Linked DNA regions of Homo sapiens: region 2 is linked to region 1. A link means that fine-mapping ties the variant in region 1 to the expression of a gene that starts in the linked region. Tissue or cell type: whole blood. Region 1 holds a variant in brackets; the other region holds the start of a gene. All regions are shown on one strand. Distances are from middle to middle.

The links. PIP is the estimated chance that this variant, and not a neighbour inherited with it, causes the effect.
Region 2: it holds the start of EHD3, and the variant in region 1 is fine-mapped to the expression of EHD3 in whole blood (INTERVAL, PIP above 0.99).

What each region holds. Positions count from the first base shown.
Region 1 is chr2:31,315,252-31,323,360 of GRCh38, reverse strand. No RefSeq gene overlaps it. Among named protein-coding and RNA genes, the nearest start is that of EHD3, 85 kb to the right of the region's middle. RefSeq lists a silencer at 4,506-4,575. The variant G/T (reference allele first, on the strand shown) is at 3,250.
Region 2 is chr2:31,230,203-31,238,311 of GRCh38, reverse strand. It overlaps EHD3 (EH domain containing 3), which reads right to left and starts at 4,160. Exons shown (of 6, transcript NM_014600.3): 1 at 3,464-4,160. The coding sequence starts at 3,690. It also overlaps a transcript of CAPN14 not described here.

The DNA.
Region 1 (8,109 bases):
ACAAGTCATGTAGCTCTACCAAGTGCCAGTGCATGGGGAATTTTGGTAGTGCTTCGTATGTGATGATCGACACTATTTCCTTTTCCATTTATTGTATTTTATCATTGTGTTCTACTCCTTCTTTCATCTCTTTAAAACAAGTAAAATGCTTAGAACAATGCTTACCATGTAGTAAGAACTTCACAGAAGTGTTTTCTAACATTTTAAGTACAATTTATTTTTAACAGATTTTACAAGTTCTCATAGTCTAATTCTTTCCTTCAATGTGGAATATTTATTCACATAGATCATTTTTTTTTCATTATAAGCTTATTCTCAATGAGTGTTCCGTTTCCTGTGGTGAACTTGTGCTCTGTGGGTTGGGGAACGATTCCCTATAGAGCACATGTGTCTTCTGTGCTTTTATTGCCTTTTTATCAGTTCAAAGGTGAGCTTCTACCATGTGTGCTGGGTAAATATAGACCCCACACCTGGAATTTTGATTTTTCATATAAACTTTTTGTTTTCTTTTCTTCCCAAGAACTCTGAGTAGATACAATGCTTTCTTGCTGCTTCCACAGGCTAATGAATAGTTTTTTCTCTCCCCTCTTCATGGGTACTCTACATAGGGTGCTTTCCAACACTACAACCGATTCTCTGATTCTCTGGACACCAGAGTGTCCAACAGTTCAGATCAATTCTGACACTAACTACCTGGAGTTATCACAGACCTCACAGCCTAATGGCTCAGTCTCATAAGACTGCCCCTGCTTCAGTGCCAGGCCTCCTGTACTTCTGGCCAACTGGCTATAAATAGGGGTTCCCATGCCTCTCTCCTCATGTTTGATAGTTTGCCAGGACAGCTCACAGAACTCAGGAATGCACTTTACTTACATTGACCAGCTTATTATAAAGGATGCAAATGAGCAACCAGATGAGTTCCAGGCATATAGGGAACATAGGAAAAGGTCTGAAGGGTCCTAAGTGCAGGAGCTTCTGTTCTATGGAGTTGAGGTGCCCCCATCTCCTGGCACATGGATGTGTTCAACCCGGAAGCTCCCTGAACCCCATCGTTTAGAGGTTTTTTATGGAGGTTGGATCACATAGGCACACTCTATTATTAACTCAATCTCCAGCCCCTCTTCCCTCCTGGGGAGGATGGGGTGGTGTGGGAGGGTAGAGTGATGCTAAAAATTCTAGGCTTCGTATCAAGGCTTGGTCCTTTTGGTAACCAGTCGCCATTCTGAAGCTGTCTAGAAGCCCACCAAAAGTAACCTCATTGGAACAAAAGATACTCCTATCACCTAGCAAGTTCCAAGCAATTTAGGAATTCTCTATCAGGAACCAGGGATGAAGACCAAATAGAAGTTTCTTATTATGCCATAGGTACTATTTGGTATAGAAGTTCAGCTTTCTACCTCCATCAGCCTGAGAACATCTCATCTTCACCTGTGGATGTTAAATCCCTAAGCCAAGCCATGAGGACCGATGTCCTGTTCCCAAGCCCACTGGACTGCTCAGCCATTGCTCTTGACAGTCTGACTTGGAGTTTTCTCTTCTCTGGAATCTGAGAGTTTCCTTTTCTTTATTTTGAGCTCAGCTGGATATTAAAAAATTATATTACAGTTTCTACAACATTTCTATCTATTTGAAGCAGCAGAGGAACATTCATTTCCTTAAACTTCCATGTTGCTAGAAGTTTTAAGAGGTTATATTTTAGAATCCTACTTGTAATCCTATTTATTTTTTGTGTTAATGTACATCTTAGGACCAACTGCCACAGCAGTCAGATTCCAAGCATCAAAAAGATTTAGATATCCTACTTTTGCACATTCTAGTTTTTCTTATGCTGTCAGTATCCATCACTGGCTACTTTTTTCTATATTTGCAAATATTTCCGGGGTCCATATTTTAATTCCTAATTGCCATAGAGATTCATTTTATTAAACAATAAACATCCATCTACTGGTAGGAAGACATCCTTCCAACAAAAATTTAGCTCTGACTACGTATGAAGCGTTCTGCAATGCCCTAAAAGGAAAATAAAGATGAATCAGCCTCAGATACTGCCCCAAGTAGCTCGCAGTCTATCTAGCAGGAGAAATACAACATGTGCACAAATAACCCTAAGACCAGGTGGACCACGGTGGTGGCTGAAGAGACCTGGGGAAGAGTGTTTGGAGAATTCAGAGACGGGAACGCTCACGTATATGGAGGGAGGAATTGGAGGAGGTTTCACAGAGGTGGCATTTGCATTGATCCTGAAGGATAGTGTATTGTTTTCTATCGCTGCCATAACAGATGACCACAAATTTAATGGATTAAAATCACACCTATTTTTATTATTCCACAGTTCTGTAGGTTAGAAGTGTGGGTACATGTGGCTCTACTCAGTCCTCTGCTTAGAGTTTCACGAGGTCAAAATCAAGGTTTTGGCAGGGCCGTGTTCCTTTTGGGAGTTTCTGGGGATGAATCTGCTTCTAAGCTCATTGTTGGCCGTTCCTTACAGTTGTAGGACTAAGGTCTTCACTTCCTTGCTGGCTGTTAGCTGGGGGCTGCCCACCTTCTCCTCATGCTTTCCACGTAGCCTTCAGCAATGGGGGTCAAGTCCCTCTCACGCTCCCAATCTTTCTGTTGAGTTCTGCCACTTCTCTTCTGACTCCAGCGGGAGAAAGTTCTGTGCTTTTAAGGGCTCATGTGATTAGATTGGGTGCACCTGGATGATCTGGGCTACTCTGGCTTTTTTTTTTTTTTTTTTTTTTGACAGAGTCTTGCTCTGCCACCCAGGCTGGAGTGCAGTGACACAATCTTGGCTCACTGCAACCTCCGCCTCCTGGGTGCAAGCAATTCTCCTGCCTCAGCCTCCCTGTAGCTGGGATTATAGGCATGCACCATCACACCTGGCTAATTTTTGTATTTTCAGTAGAGACAGGATTTTGCCATGTTGTCCAGGCTGGTCTCTAACTCCTGACCTCAAGTGATCCACCTGCCTCGGCCTCCCAAAGTGCTAGGATTACAGGCGTGAGCCACCGTACCCAGCTGTACTCTGGCTATTTTAAATTCTGTAACCTCAATTACATCTGCCAAGCCTCTTTTGCAATGCAACATGATATATTTACAAGATGCAGGGATTGGGGCATCTTTGAGGGGCCATTATCCTGCCTCAGTATGGATAGACTTTACATCTGCTGAGCCATGCCAGAGGGCTCTTCAGCAAGAGGGAGTGGGAAGAACAAAACCATAGAGGCAGTAAACCACATGGAAGGGGCA[G/T]TGAGAACAGCCAGCCTTGCCTGGGGTGCTAACCAGTTAGTTTCCTCCAAATGATGAGATATGTGTGCAAGCTCTTGCACAGAGTAAGACCTTCTGAACCAGAGAAAGCCAGCCACAGATTCCTGTCCTAGGGCATGTAGGCGTTCCCCGCTGCTCATCTCAGTTCTGTCAGGGAGATTGCTGTTGTAGCGTTTCTACACTTCCTGTGTACACCCTGTTCCTCCAGATGTAACAATGTAGAGCCAAGCACCTTCAACAAATAAAATTTATTTACTATTACATTTGTTGCACAAAGTACTGGCAAATCAGAAGAAGAATATAATAGTTGCCCATAATCCGGACACTCAGAACAACTGTTAACACTGGTGTTTTATGAGGTGCCTTTAACAGGCAGCTTTCCGTGTCTATTAATGTTCTTTCTCAATGGTATTTTCTATTGTATGGATGGCACTGTAGTTTATTTAATGGACATTTGGCTTACTCCCAAGTGGTTTTGCTCTCATAAACATGGCTGAGATAGCATAACAAGAGTTGTTTTGACAGTCATGTTAAACAGGATGTCAGCAGGCCCTCAGTGGGAATGCGAAGGGGAACTTGGGGTGGTACAGCTGTGTGAGGGTGAGTGGCTCCTTTCCTAGTTTCTTCATCCTGGCCTCTTAGCTAAACCCCTGTGTACTGCTTTGTTGTTAACTTGGTCCAGCTGCACCCGAGAGCTCATTGAATGGTTCACTTAAGAGCTATGCATTTCACTATGTGTAAATAATCCTCAATATTTTTTAAAATTAAGTATGTCCTAGTTCCAAACCAGCAAGATCTTGCTGTTTTTGTGCACATTCACATAAATGGGATTGGATGTAATAAAAACCAAAAAAAAAAAAAAAAAGGCACAGAGAGGAGCTGGCTGGGCGCTGGCCTCCAGCATGGGACGGTAAAGGGAGTAGTTACTGGGAACAGGCTCAGTTTGGTGAGGGGTGGCCACCACACTGCTTTGGCCCTCAGCCGCCTCATTTGCATGAAGCCCCACCTTGCTGGCTTGTGCTGTGGTGGGGGGTTAAGACCCCGTATATAAAAGTCCAGCATGGCACCTGAGATGAGACAGGGAGTCAACATAGAGGAGCCATTCTTGAACCTCCAGGAACTTTTCCGGGGAGGTGCAGTCGGCGCTGGGCTGCTGTGCTCTGTGGTTTCCCCTGTGGGTTGGTGGTGAGTCAAGGGCCCCCTGGGAAGAGCAGAAAGAAGACAGGCGCTGGGGATGTTGCTAACTGCTTATTTCTGAGGGTCAGAAAAACCTCAACTCAGTACAGCTGGGCTGTGCCCTTCAAGGGTGGAGCCTGAGGGTGGAGTTAAGTAGAGAGAACTCTGGAAGGGGGTGAGGCAGGGGCCAGAGGAACTGGCAATTCTGCCTGAAGGAGGTGGGCCTAGGGTGCCAGGGGAAGATATCTTTTTCTTCCCAAAGCAAAAAAAAAAAGGAAAAATGACAAGAGCTCTGCTCAGAGCCTGGCTCAGGGCTGCTTAAATGTCTCTGCTGGCACCACTATCCTAGCCACTGCCTTTACAATTTCATGTGGGAAATGAACACGCTTACTATGATGAAATATCAATCTCATGCAGATTTTGAAGGGATTACGTATACACACATCTGCTTTGGCTTTGAGGTTATTTATATTTGAACAGCAAGCTGCGTGCCTTAAGTTCTAGTTATTAGGAATGTGTAGGCCATGGTTTATACTGATGCCAACCTGCTTGCCTACATACTGTAGGGTGAACCATATCACCCATAGAAAACAAATTGATAGTGATGAAACAAATATAAATTATCATTAAAGACCAAAAAGACCAGCAATTTTAAATCACGACCCATTCAAGACAACAGTGATGGTCCTTTGATTACACTGCGTCCTTCTAAATGACTACCAATGGGGACTTCCAGTGACTTTTGTGGACACTTACCCCATGGAAGTCTGCAGGATGGCTTGCTGCTGCAGGTAACTCTGGGCAGAAGAGTGGGTTGGCACCCCCTTTAAGCCTGACAAAATTCCTCATGTGAGTTTATGAGTTCCAAATAATAGTAATAAACTCAATAACTCACTAGGTAGGTGTTTGGTAAATGATCTTTTGATGTAAAAATGAAATTGTATAAACATTAAAGGAGGATCAGTGAGTGGCTTATCGGAACCATCCTCCCAGTATTCCCCGGGGTTAAATGTTATACCCTGAGAAGGCTTGACAAGAGCTCTGAATCATCTGAGCTGGTTATTGAAAATGCAGGTTCAGGGCCCCCCTTGCAGAGATTCTGGTTAAATAAATCTAGAGTGAGACCCAAGAATCTGAATTTTAAACAAGCCCTGGAGGTGATTCTGATGCATGTGGTCTGCAGATACAAATTGATGGAAAATGCCCAAAGAGAATGGGGCCCCTCTCTGCCAGGTGTTAAGAGCACCTGCTATTCTGAGCAAATGCTATTCTGAGAGCATTTGCAGGCTGGAGTCTGCCTTTATGAGCTCTGGGTGGGAAGGTAGTTCAGGCTGGTTTATACAGCCACATACAGGGAAGACAGTGAAGAATGCCCAAACATAGGGGGTGCTCTATGCTGGAGAAATGTTTAGTTTAATCCTTGAGTTGCGACAGGTTGGCAGGAACTAAAGATCTCTTAGAGAGGGATGGGCCTGAGGCATGAGAGACGCAGAGGCCAGGTCCAGAGATGCAGCGTGGAAGGGAGGGGACCATGGAGAAGGATAGAAGGACATAGCAGAGGGGATAAAGAGAAAAAAACGCATGTACACATGACACCTATTATAATTATATGTTGAGGGCTTTGCCTGTGTCAGCCCATTCACTCCTCAGCACAGCAGTCTAAGATGGCAATAACATTCGTTTTTTACATGAGGAGACAGTGGCTCCCAAAGGTTAGAATAAGAATGGAAGTCAGAGTTTTATTTCAGGACCATGTGGTTCCTAAGCTCTCACTCTTGATTTTGTGTTTCTTTAGGCAAGTAAATGATGTTTAGCCACTATACCCATCTATATACGTATTCATTATTTCATTCATTCACTCAACATGAATGAGCTCCTGCTAAGTGCCAGGCACTGAGACAGGGGCTGAGGATTGACAGGTGGACAAAAGAGACACTGCCTTAGATCTTAATAGGAAACATGAATATTAAACAGTCAGACACGTAACTATAATTTTGCAAAGAGTTGGAAGAACTGAAAAGGAAAATTGCAGGTTCTGTGAGAAATAAAGCGGGGACCCTTAATTTAGAGTGGAGGGTCAGAAAAGGCCTCTATGGAATGTTGGACTTGAAGGATGGGTAGGAATTAGCTAAGCTCAAGTGTGGGGAAAAATGTCCCAGAACTGTGCTGTCCAAAAGAACTGTTGTGCTGTCCAATATGGTAACCATCAGCCACATGTGACTAGCAAGCACTTAAAACGTGTCTAGTGTGACTGAGAAATAAATCTTAAGTTTTGTTTAATTTTAATTAATGAAAAAATACATATTTCTTAAAAACCACATGTGGCTAGTGGCATCTGTATTGGACAGCACAGCTCTAGAACAAATGGGAAGTTTAAGCAAAGGACCTGAACTGAAAAAGGGTTTGATGGCTTCCAGAAGCCTAATTTGTGGTGGGTACAGTGGGGAGACTGAGACAGCATGAGGCCTGAAGGGAACAGGGCTCAGAGTGTGCAGACACTTGAAGGAACAGGGCTCAGACTGTGCAGACACTCAAGGGAGCAGGGCTCAGAGCATGCAGGCACTTGCAGGCCTCATGAGGGGTTTTCAATTTTACTGCAGTGGGGAAGTTGTTGAAGGATTTTGAGGAGAAGAGTAACTTGGTCAATTTTTGTTTTAAGATCACTTTTCACTGTAGCAAACGGATCAGAGGGAGCTAAAGTTAGAGAAAGGAAACCAAGGAGTAAATATTGTCATTTCCTAAGAAAGAGATGTTGGTGGCTCAGCTTAAGGTGGATACTGTGGAAATGAAGAGACATGGGTGGATGTGGTATAATTTCTAGATAGAATGGATGGAACACACAGTTTTAAACATACAGAATCCAGTAGCCTAGGCCTGTGTTGTCTAATATGGTAGCCGTTAGCCCCTTGTGGCTCCTTAAATTTAAATTAATTAAAATTAAATGAAATAAGTCTTTCTGCACTGTACCATTCACATTTCAAGTGCTCAAAGGCAACACGTGACCAGTGGCTGCCATTATTGTACAGGGTAGCCTTTAGTGAACATTCCTGTCATTGTAGAAACCTCTACTGGGTAGTGCTAAAGTCACTTGGAGAAATGTTTAAAAATGGATCTAGAAGAGGTCATCAGGTCCAACACCCTCACCGTGGAGGTGACATGCTGGGGGACACTCAGCTGATTCCTGGGTGTTGCTGGAGTGGTGCCTAAACCAGGCTCTCGGGTGGCAACCTTTTCCACCCAAAGCATCAGAAGCATCATGGGCAGAATTGCCTGCTTCCCCAAGGGCTTTGTATCCTGAGAGAAAGGCCCTGCTCCAAGAGCACAGGGCAAAGCAGTTCTCACTCCTCCCCAGGCTTTTATCCAAGAGAGGGGAATGGGAGCAGAGGGGAAGGGCACATGGGTGGAGTAATGAGACCCACTTGTCAGAAGGCTAAACTAAAGCGTTACCAGCGGTGTTTGTCTAAGGAAAGGCTTCTGAAAGGCTCAGGCCTGATTTTGACTCAAACCATTTAATAATTCTATGGCAGCCTGAAAAAGAAAGGCTGAGATAGAAACAACAGAAATACAACCACCATTATTGTTTCCAGCTAACATGGCCTATCACTGGAGGCTCAGAGAACGTGTCTTTAGTTACTTCTGCAGAAAATAATGCATTGCTTTCTGAAA
Region 2 (8,109 bases), 85 kb after region 1:
GAGGAAAAGGCCCCTCACAGGTTCAGGCCTGGCATGGAGACAAGAATCAAGGCAAGAAGCAGGGATGGGAGAAGGGAGAGGAGGAGGCCTTCTGAGACCTAGGCATGGACGCACTTATCCACCCCAGAGCAGCCTTACTCGCAATGGGGAAGGGATGCAGTGTCAACTCACCCTCTCGGAAAACAACTGCAAAATATGACTCTTAGTACAAAAATTTTAAAGTTAAAAAATATTTTAAACAAAACCCTGCCCAACCTTTGGCCTAGCAATTCCACTTCTGGGAATCTCAAAAAAACAAAAACAAAAACAAACAAAAAAAACACACACACACAATATAGGAAAAAATATTATACACAGAGATATTCAGAATTATTCTACAATAACAAAAAATTAGAAATAGCCTAAAACATCCAAGAGAAGTAGATTAAGTGAAGAATCGTATATACACACAATGGAATAGTATGCAGCTGTTAAAAACAATGCTATTCATTAGTTGAATGAATAATTGTATATACAAATAGTGAAATAGTATGCAGTTGTTAAAAATAATGCTGACAAATAACGCTTATAACATAGGAAATGTTCATGCTATAAGTAAGAAAAACTGGCCAGACGCAGTGGTTCACGTCTGTAATCCCCAGCACTTTGGGAGGCTGAGGTGGGTGGATCCCCTGAGGTCAGGAGTTCAAGACCAGTCTGCCTAACATGGCAAAACCCCATCTCTACTTAAAATACAAAAATTGGCCAGGCGTGTTGGCGGGTGCCCGTAACCCCAGCTACTTGGGAGGCTGAGGCAGGAGAACTGCTTGAACACAGGAGGCGGAGGTTGCACTGAGCCGAGATTGTGCCATTGTACTCCAGCCTGGGTGACACAGTGAGACTCCATCTCAAAAACAAAAACAAAAATAAACAAGCCAGCATACAAAATTATATGTATAGCATGATCTCAACTGTGCTATAAAATAGCTACAAATACTGGAAATATATTTATATATAAATTATATGCTTTATATATAAATATATTTTATATGTAAATTAAAATAGCTTCTCCTAAGTCATGGGATTATGGGTGACTTTTTTTCTTCTTTAAATTTATTCTTTTCTATATTTTCCAATTAAAAACAACTGTTTACTGGATTTTATGAGAAAGAAGAAAAGTACATGATTTGGTTCTGGAGGGTTCCCTGTGGTATGACCCCTCCTACAGCGCTGGCTGACACTCCCTCAAGGGGAGACAGCTTTTGACGCATGAGCTAAATTCAGTTGCTGACATGAGTGGGGAGAGGGAACTACTGCACATGGAGGATAAGAAAGAAGAGCGATCTGCCTCTCCCGGTCTTACTGTCTCCCTCAGATGAGGAATCATCTGTGGCAATTTGACTCTGCCACTTTCTTAGACCCAGTTAACAGCCAGTGATGACTTAGGCAAAGCCGGGAGAGTGTCTCAGACAAAAGGCGCTCAAACCTGTCTGCTGCTTGGGGATCCTCACCTCTCCCCATCTTCCCTCCCATTCTGCAAAATGTCTACTGGGAACCTCCTATAGCCGAGACCCTGGGCAAGGCCCCAGAGATGCTAAGGCATGGATGTTGTCTTGTCAATGATTGTACACCAGGAAGGAGAAGCTACAGATAATGTATGAAAGGTTATAAATACCATATGTGTAGAGAGCCAGGGAAGGCTGAGAGGGCAAGGGCCATCTGCAAATGGCCTGAACTTCCCCTGAGGCATGAATGGGCCAAGTGGAGGCCAGGGCTCACAAAGGAAACTCTGCAGGCAACCCAGGCAGCTCTGAAGTGCCTTTGGCAGCAATGGGTGCTTAATAAAACAAGAAGCATGGCTTAGATCAGGGGTTCCCACCCTAAAGTCCAAAGAAGGCCCTTGGACCCCCAACATTATATGCAAATTTGGGATGTACGTACATTTTTCTAAAGATAGAAAGTTAAGAAGCAATGGATTAGTTTAATCTCTAAGGCCTCTTGCAGTTCTATCAATATAAAACATACAAGAGCCAACAGGCCCATCACCTCCCAAACTCCTTCAGAAATCACTTGGCCTCTTAAAGCTGCTGAGCCCTAGGCTGTGCACTCCACAAGGACAAACTCAATGTGGTGTTGTGTTTAGACATGACCTATTAGCATGGTGCTACTTCCAGAAGGCTGGCGTTACAAGGTGGATGTTAGAGAAAATTAGTACCTAGAAAATTAGTAACTAGACTGTTAACTTTTCTGCACTCCTCACCAAACAAAGCACAGCATTTCACATGCTGTGGATGCTCAAACAGCCAAGGAATAGGAATAAGGGTACCCCTGCTTTCCAAACCCTCTGCAGGAGATGAGCACACTTGACTTTGGGGGGCCACCAAACTCCATTCTCAAGCTGTGGGAGCCTGAGTCTTAAGACAGAGGGCCACAGCATTCTCAACAATTTGGAATGGCTATAAAAGGGGCCAAGAAAATGGCTGGCCTTGAAGTTGGGAAGATTGAGGACTGGAGTGAAGCCTGTTCTCTAAAGATAAGAAGGGCCTCTGGTGGACTTCTCTGAATGCAGGGTGAACAAATTGACTTCTTGAGCCTCCCTCCAGCCCAAGGATTCTGTAATTGAAGGGAATGGATGACTCATTCTCAGAGTTACAGGCGTTTAGCCAAGCATCTCCTCACATGCATCTAGGACTTAACATCCCAGGTCTGCTGCCCACTCTTTAGATGGCTCTGCACAATTCATTTAACTTCTCTGCGCCTCGGTTATCTCACCTGCAAACTCAGCAACTGGATGAGACAATGCCAATATCCCTTCCATCTCTAAGCGTCTTTAATATTATTATTAAGCCATTAAGATCAAATAAGAGAAAGGGGAAAAAAAAAGCATTCTGCTTCTGGACTCAGCTTCTGTTGAGTCTCCAAGATATATACACAGGAGCTCTGCTTTAGAGAAGGAAATGATAAAAGGAGGACAAGTAGCATCCCCAGGCCACCTCCGTTCCCAGGCCCGCACCCATCAGAACTCAGCTGCAACTGTGAGGCCCCCATGTGAGTGCCAAGCCCCTTGAAAAACAAGGGAAGAGGTTTTGCCCGTGAATGATGTGTTGCTAAAAAGTGAAGACGTAAGACATCCCCACCAACATAAGGCGCTCCAGAGACCAGGAGCTCTTCCATTGTGCCTCCTGGGCCTCGGTTTCATCATCCATAAGATGGGGAGACTGGGAATGGCTTTACACTTGAATACTTCAGGTTGACCACCACAGCCAAGGGCCAAGTAGAGTGGACAGGTATTGGGTAGGATGGGAAGGGGGACCAGCAAAAATTGTGGGGTAAGATTTTGACGCCTGCACAAACACAGATCTCTTCAGAGCCCTCAACTGAAGGCTTCCCATTGGTCCCCTGTCTGGGATGGAGCACCAGGAGTGACCGGAGGGACTAGGCGCTGGGCTCCGGGGTGGGCTGCCAGGACCCTGGGCCGGCTCACCTGATGAAGGTGGTCTTCCCAGTGGAGTACTGGCCCACCAGCAGAACCATGGGCTTGTTGTCGAAGTCGGCATCCTCCAGGGCGGGCGAGTGGAACTCGTGGAAGCGGTAATGCTCTTCCAAGGGCAGCAGCTTGCTCTTGTAGAGTTTCTTGAGCCCCTCACTCACCGTCTGGAAAACCTCGGGGTCCTTCCTCCGGCGGTCGTCCGTACCCAGCCAGCTGAACATCGCGGCCGCCGCTCGCCCCCGGCACGCAGCCCCAGGGGAAGACTCCTCCTCAGGGGAAGATGTCCCGTAGGACCGGTCCGCCGGGCTCCGAGCCGCGCCGCCGCCTCACCCAAGCGCGGGGCTCAGCCGCACCATGGCCCGGGCACGCGGCTAGGAGGGCCGGGAGCGCACTCTCCCTGCTCCTGGGACCAAGCCCAGCCGCTGCTGCATCCAGCAGCCCAGGCCGGAGGGAGGATAAATAATCTGGGCTTGAGGAGGAGGGGTGAAATCTTGGCAATTAAAGTTGAACCTGCAAGGAAACTGCCAGATGCCGGGGTCCCAAGCCGGGGTCCCCGATCGGCCCCCAGCCCTCGCCTGCTCTGCCCTGCGTGCAGCAAGGGATGCTTCGGCTCCGCTCCTGCCGGACCGAGGCGGCTCAGGGGAGACGGCGACGCTGCCCAGCCCGCGGACAGCTCTGCATCCGCAGCAGCATCCTGCAGCCCCAGGCGGTGGTTTAAATGCCAGCTGGGCAGGAAGCCGGCGCGCAGAGGAAGTCCCCTAGTACTGGCAAGGCAGGGCCGGCCCCACGGTTGCGGCGACGGGAAGCCGCGCAGGGCGCCGCCATGTTTGTGGGCAGGCGCTCAGCTCTAGACCTGCGGCCGCGCGGGGAGAGGGATGCTGACCCAGTCCAGTGGGAGAGTGCCGGTGTCTCAGTCTCCGCCTCTGGGGCTTCGATTTGGGAACAGCGCCCTCTCAGGGACGGCTGCGAGGACAGAGTTGACCTATTCATCACACTCCCTGCTTTGAATCGCCTCTCCTTCAGTTGCTGAGGTCAATTCCCTAGGAAAACAGGTACTCTAGTATTGGGGGATTTTTTTTTTTTTTGGCATAGAAAGGGGATCCACTATCAGGTTACACAAAATAACCAAAACTGTCACTACCCAAACTTTTAGCTAGGCTTAGGGTGAAGTCAAAATCGTTCCCATTTACTTATTCATTCATTCCAGCAAAACAAAACAAGCCAAGAAGCAAAATCCCTGCAAGTATTGGGAATTTATTATGGGGCAGTTACAATTTTGGTGACTGTGGATACAGAGATGAGTGCTGAACAGACTCTCCCTTCCAGGAACTCCAGTGAAGGCAGGCTTTAAAGAGGAGGCATGAGCAGAGGGTCATGGGAATACAGGGAGGAGTCACTCCTTTTGTGTGGCTAATTTGAGGAAGGCTTCATGGAAAGCATGACTGTAAGCTGGATCCTAAATGATGAATTGACATCCATTGTTCTAGGAGCGTAAGGAGTATTTGCAAAGGCTTGAGGAACTTGGTGTGTCCAAGGCAGAGTAAACAGTTTGGCATAGCTGGAGTGTAGGGTTTAGGAAGGTGAAAGAGAGTGAGGGAGGCCAAGCATGAAAGGCTTTGCCAGAGATGGGGAACCAATAGCAATGCTATTACTAATCATTGTTACATTAACAAAATGCTCAGCATGTGCAGGGGCCTGGGCTAAGTTCTCAGTGAACATTGCTTTATTTAACCTTCATGGCAGATCATATTATCTCCAGCATCATACTAAGGAGAGTGAGTGGGAACACTGTCCAGGTGTAGGCAAAAGCAGTGCATCGTGTGTAGAGAATTTAAACCCAATAATAAACTTGCTGAAAGTTGATGTGCTTTGTATTGGCACCATTCTAAACAGTGTAGTGATAAAACACTCCTCCCTGCCCAGGCTAATGACTCCCACTACCCTCCCTTCCACAGATGAAGAAGGAGTAGGCTATGGACCAGGCAGGAACTGGAATGCCAAGAGCAGTGTTGGAGGGGCAAAAGAGGTTGGGGGTTGATATGGTTTTGCTTTGTGTCCCCGCATAAATCTCATCTCTAATTGTAATCCCCATAATCCCCATGCGTTTAGGGAGAGAGCTGGTGGGAGGAGATTGGATCATAGGGACAGTTTCATTCATGCTGTTCTCATGATAGTGAGTGAGTTCTCGTGAGAGCTGATGGTTTTATAAGGGGCTCTTCCCACTTGGTTCCTCATACTTCTCTCTCCTGCCGCCTTATGAAGGACGTGTTTGCTTCCCTTTATGCCATGACTGTAAGTTTCCTGAGGCCTCTCTAGGCATGCAGAACTGTGAGTTAATTAAACCTTTTTCCTTTATAAATTACCCAGTCTTAGGTATTTCTTCACAGCAGTGTGAAAACAGACGAATACAGAGGCCAAGAGACCATTTAGGAAACTATTCCAAAACTTAGGAGACAGCTGCAATGGGATTGGAGAAGAGGTCAGACTCAAAAGATTTTTTTCATGGAATAGAATTGTCAGATCTTGGTATGTGATAAAAAAAAGAGGACATAAGGGTGAGGCACAGTCTAGGATGATTTTGAATTTTCTACCATAGGGGATAAGATCATTGGAGAAGCTCTTCCACTAATTAGGGGAGGCAGAGAGAGAGCTGATTTAGCAGACAGAGATAATGTGTTCAATCTAAAACGTGTTGCGTTTGAAGTGCCTGCAGGAGCTTCAAGAGGAGTGTGGTGAAGCTGCAGGGATTTCAGGGGAGGGGGGATTATCAGAGGCCAGTGCTGAATAGAATCTCCTTAGTTACATCTCAGATCTCCCGACTCCCTCCTTGAACCCCAAAACTGATCATCTCTTGTTGAGAATTCACTCAGATTAATATTTCACCCTTGGTGTTTAGCTACTACCAACATACGAACCTAAGGAGTAATATTAAAGATATTTAACAACTCACAAGGCATGAGAATCAAACACCCGGAACAGACACTGGCCTTCCTAGTGGAGCAAGGCTTGCGGCCCCGTGCCACGCCTGGTGTTAATACAGTGGCGTCTGGACCTTGGAGAGATCTGAGCCTGTCCCCGGAGAGAGGTCAGTATGGCCAGCGTGACAGGAAAGAAATCAAGGGGCCCCATTATGGAAGTATTTCAAGAATTTTGTAATCAGTACGGCCATGCCATTGTCTACTGCTGAATGTCTGTTCCGAATATCTAATTTACCAAGTGCGTGTTGACACATCTACTCCCGTCTCAGTCTTGAGTAGTTGAAATCTATCTGTTTAAAAAAGGAACTAATGGAGCATTTCTATAGACTAGCAATAAAAGGTCATGAAAGATAATATTCAAAAAAGATACTGTGTTCAAAAGAACAAAAACTTACGGATAAATCTGACAAAAGATATGCAAGATCTTTATGTGAAAAATAATAAAACTTTATAGAAAGATGTTAAAGAAGTTCTAAGTAAATGGGAGAGACATGCCATGTTCCATTGTGGAAGGATTCCTTGTCACAAACATGTGAATTCTTTACAACATGATTGATAAATTCAATAATTGAGAGATATGATTGAAATCAAAATCTAAATAAGGTTTTCCATGGAAATTGACAAGGTGATTCTAAAATGTATAACTTATAGAGCAATAGTAAAAAAAAGCTTAGATATTCCAGGAGAAGAAAGAAGATAAGAAGAATAAGGAGGAGGAGAGGGAGAGGTGGAAGGGGAAGGAGGGCAGAAAAAGGAGAACAGAGAAGAGAAGAGGACAACAGTAACATAGCAATGGCAACAACTAAGCGAAGAGGACTTGCCCTAGTGGACATTGTTATGGAGTTACAGTGGTTAATATGGTTTTGGCACAGAGACCAACAGAATAACAACACAGTAAATAGCCAGGAAATTTGGAAGCCTGACATATACAGAAGTTGCAATAGAGATTGCATATATATCACCACAAAGTCAGGAAGAGTTCTTTAAACAAGACGTCAGAAGCACAAACTGAAAAATGAAAAAAACTAAGTTTAGCACTAGCAAAATTTAAAACTTTCGTTCAACTAAAAATACAAAAGTGAGTGAAAAGATATTTCCTATACACAAAAACCCATGAAAGCACATCCAGAATATAGAACTAATGGCTGTGCATCGATAACAAAGACAAACATTCCAATAGAAAAAAACTTGGCAAGAGCTACAAAAATGTCTTTTACAAGAGGCTACATGAATGCCCTATAAACGCAAGAAAACATGTTGCATCTCATTAGTAATTAGAGAAATGCCAAACCACACTAACACTCCATACCCACCAAAATGGCAAGAATAAAAAGTTGGATGGTAGGGTTGGTGAGGATGTAGAGCAATGGGAGCTCTCATAAAATGCTGATGGGCGTGCAGGCTGGCACAAATACTTTGGGAAACAGTTTGGCATTGCTTAGTGAAGCTGAAGATGTGCATGTCCTATGACCTATCTCCTTCCATTCTATTTCAAGGCGTGATCTAGAGAAACTCTTGCACATGTGCATAGGGAGATAAGTCTTAAGAATGTTGATGGCAACATTATTTGTAGCAGCAAAAATTTATAAACAACTAAATGTCCTTCACCGAGTAAATGGATAAATGTGCCACATTCATATAAAATATATACCACACTGGGGT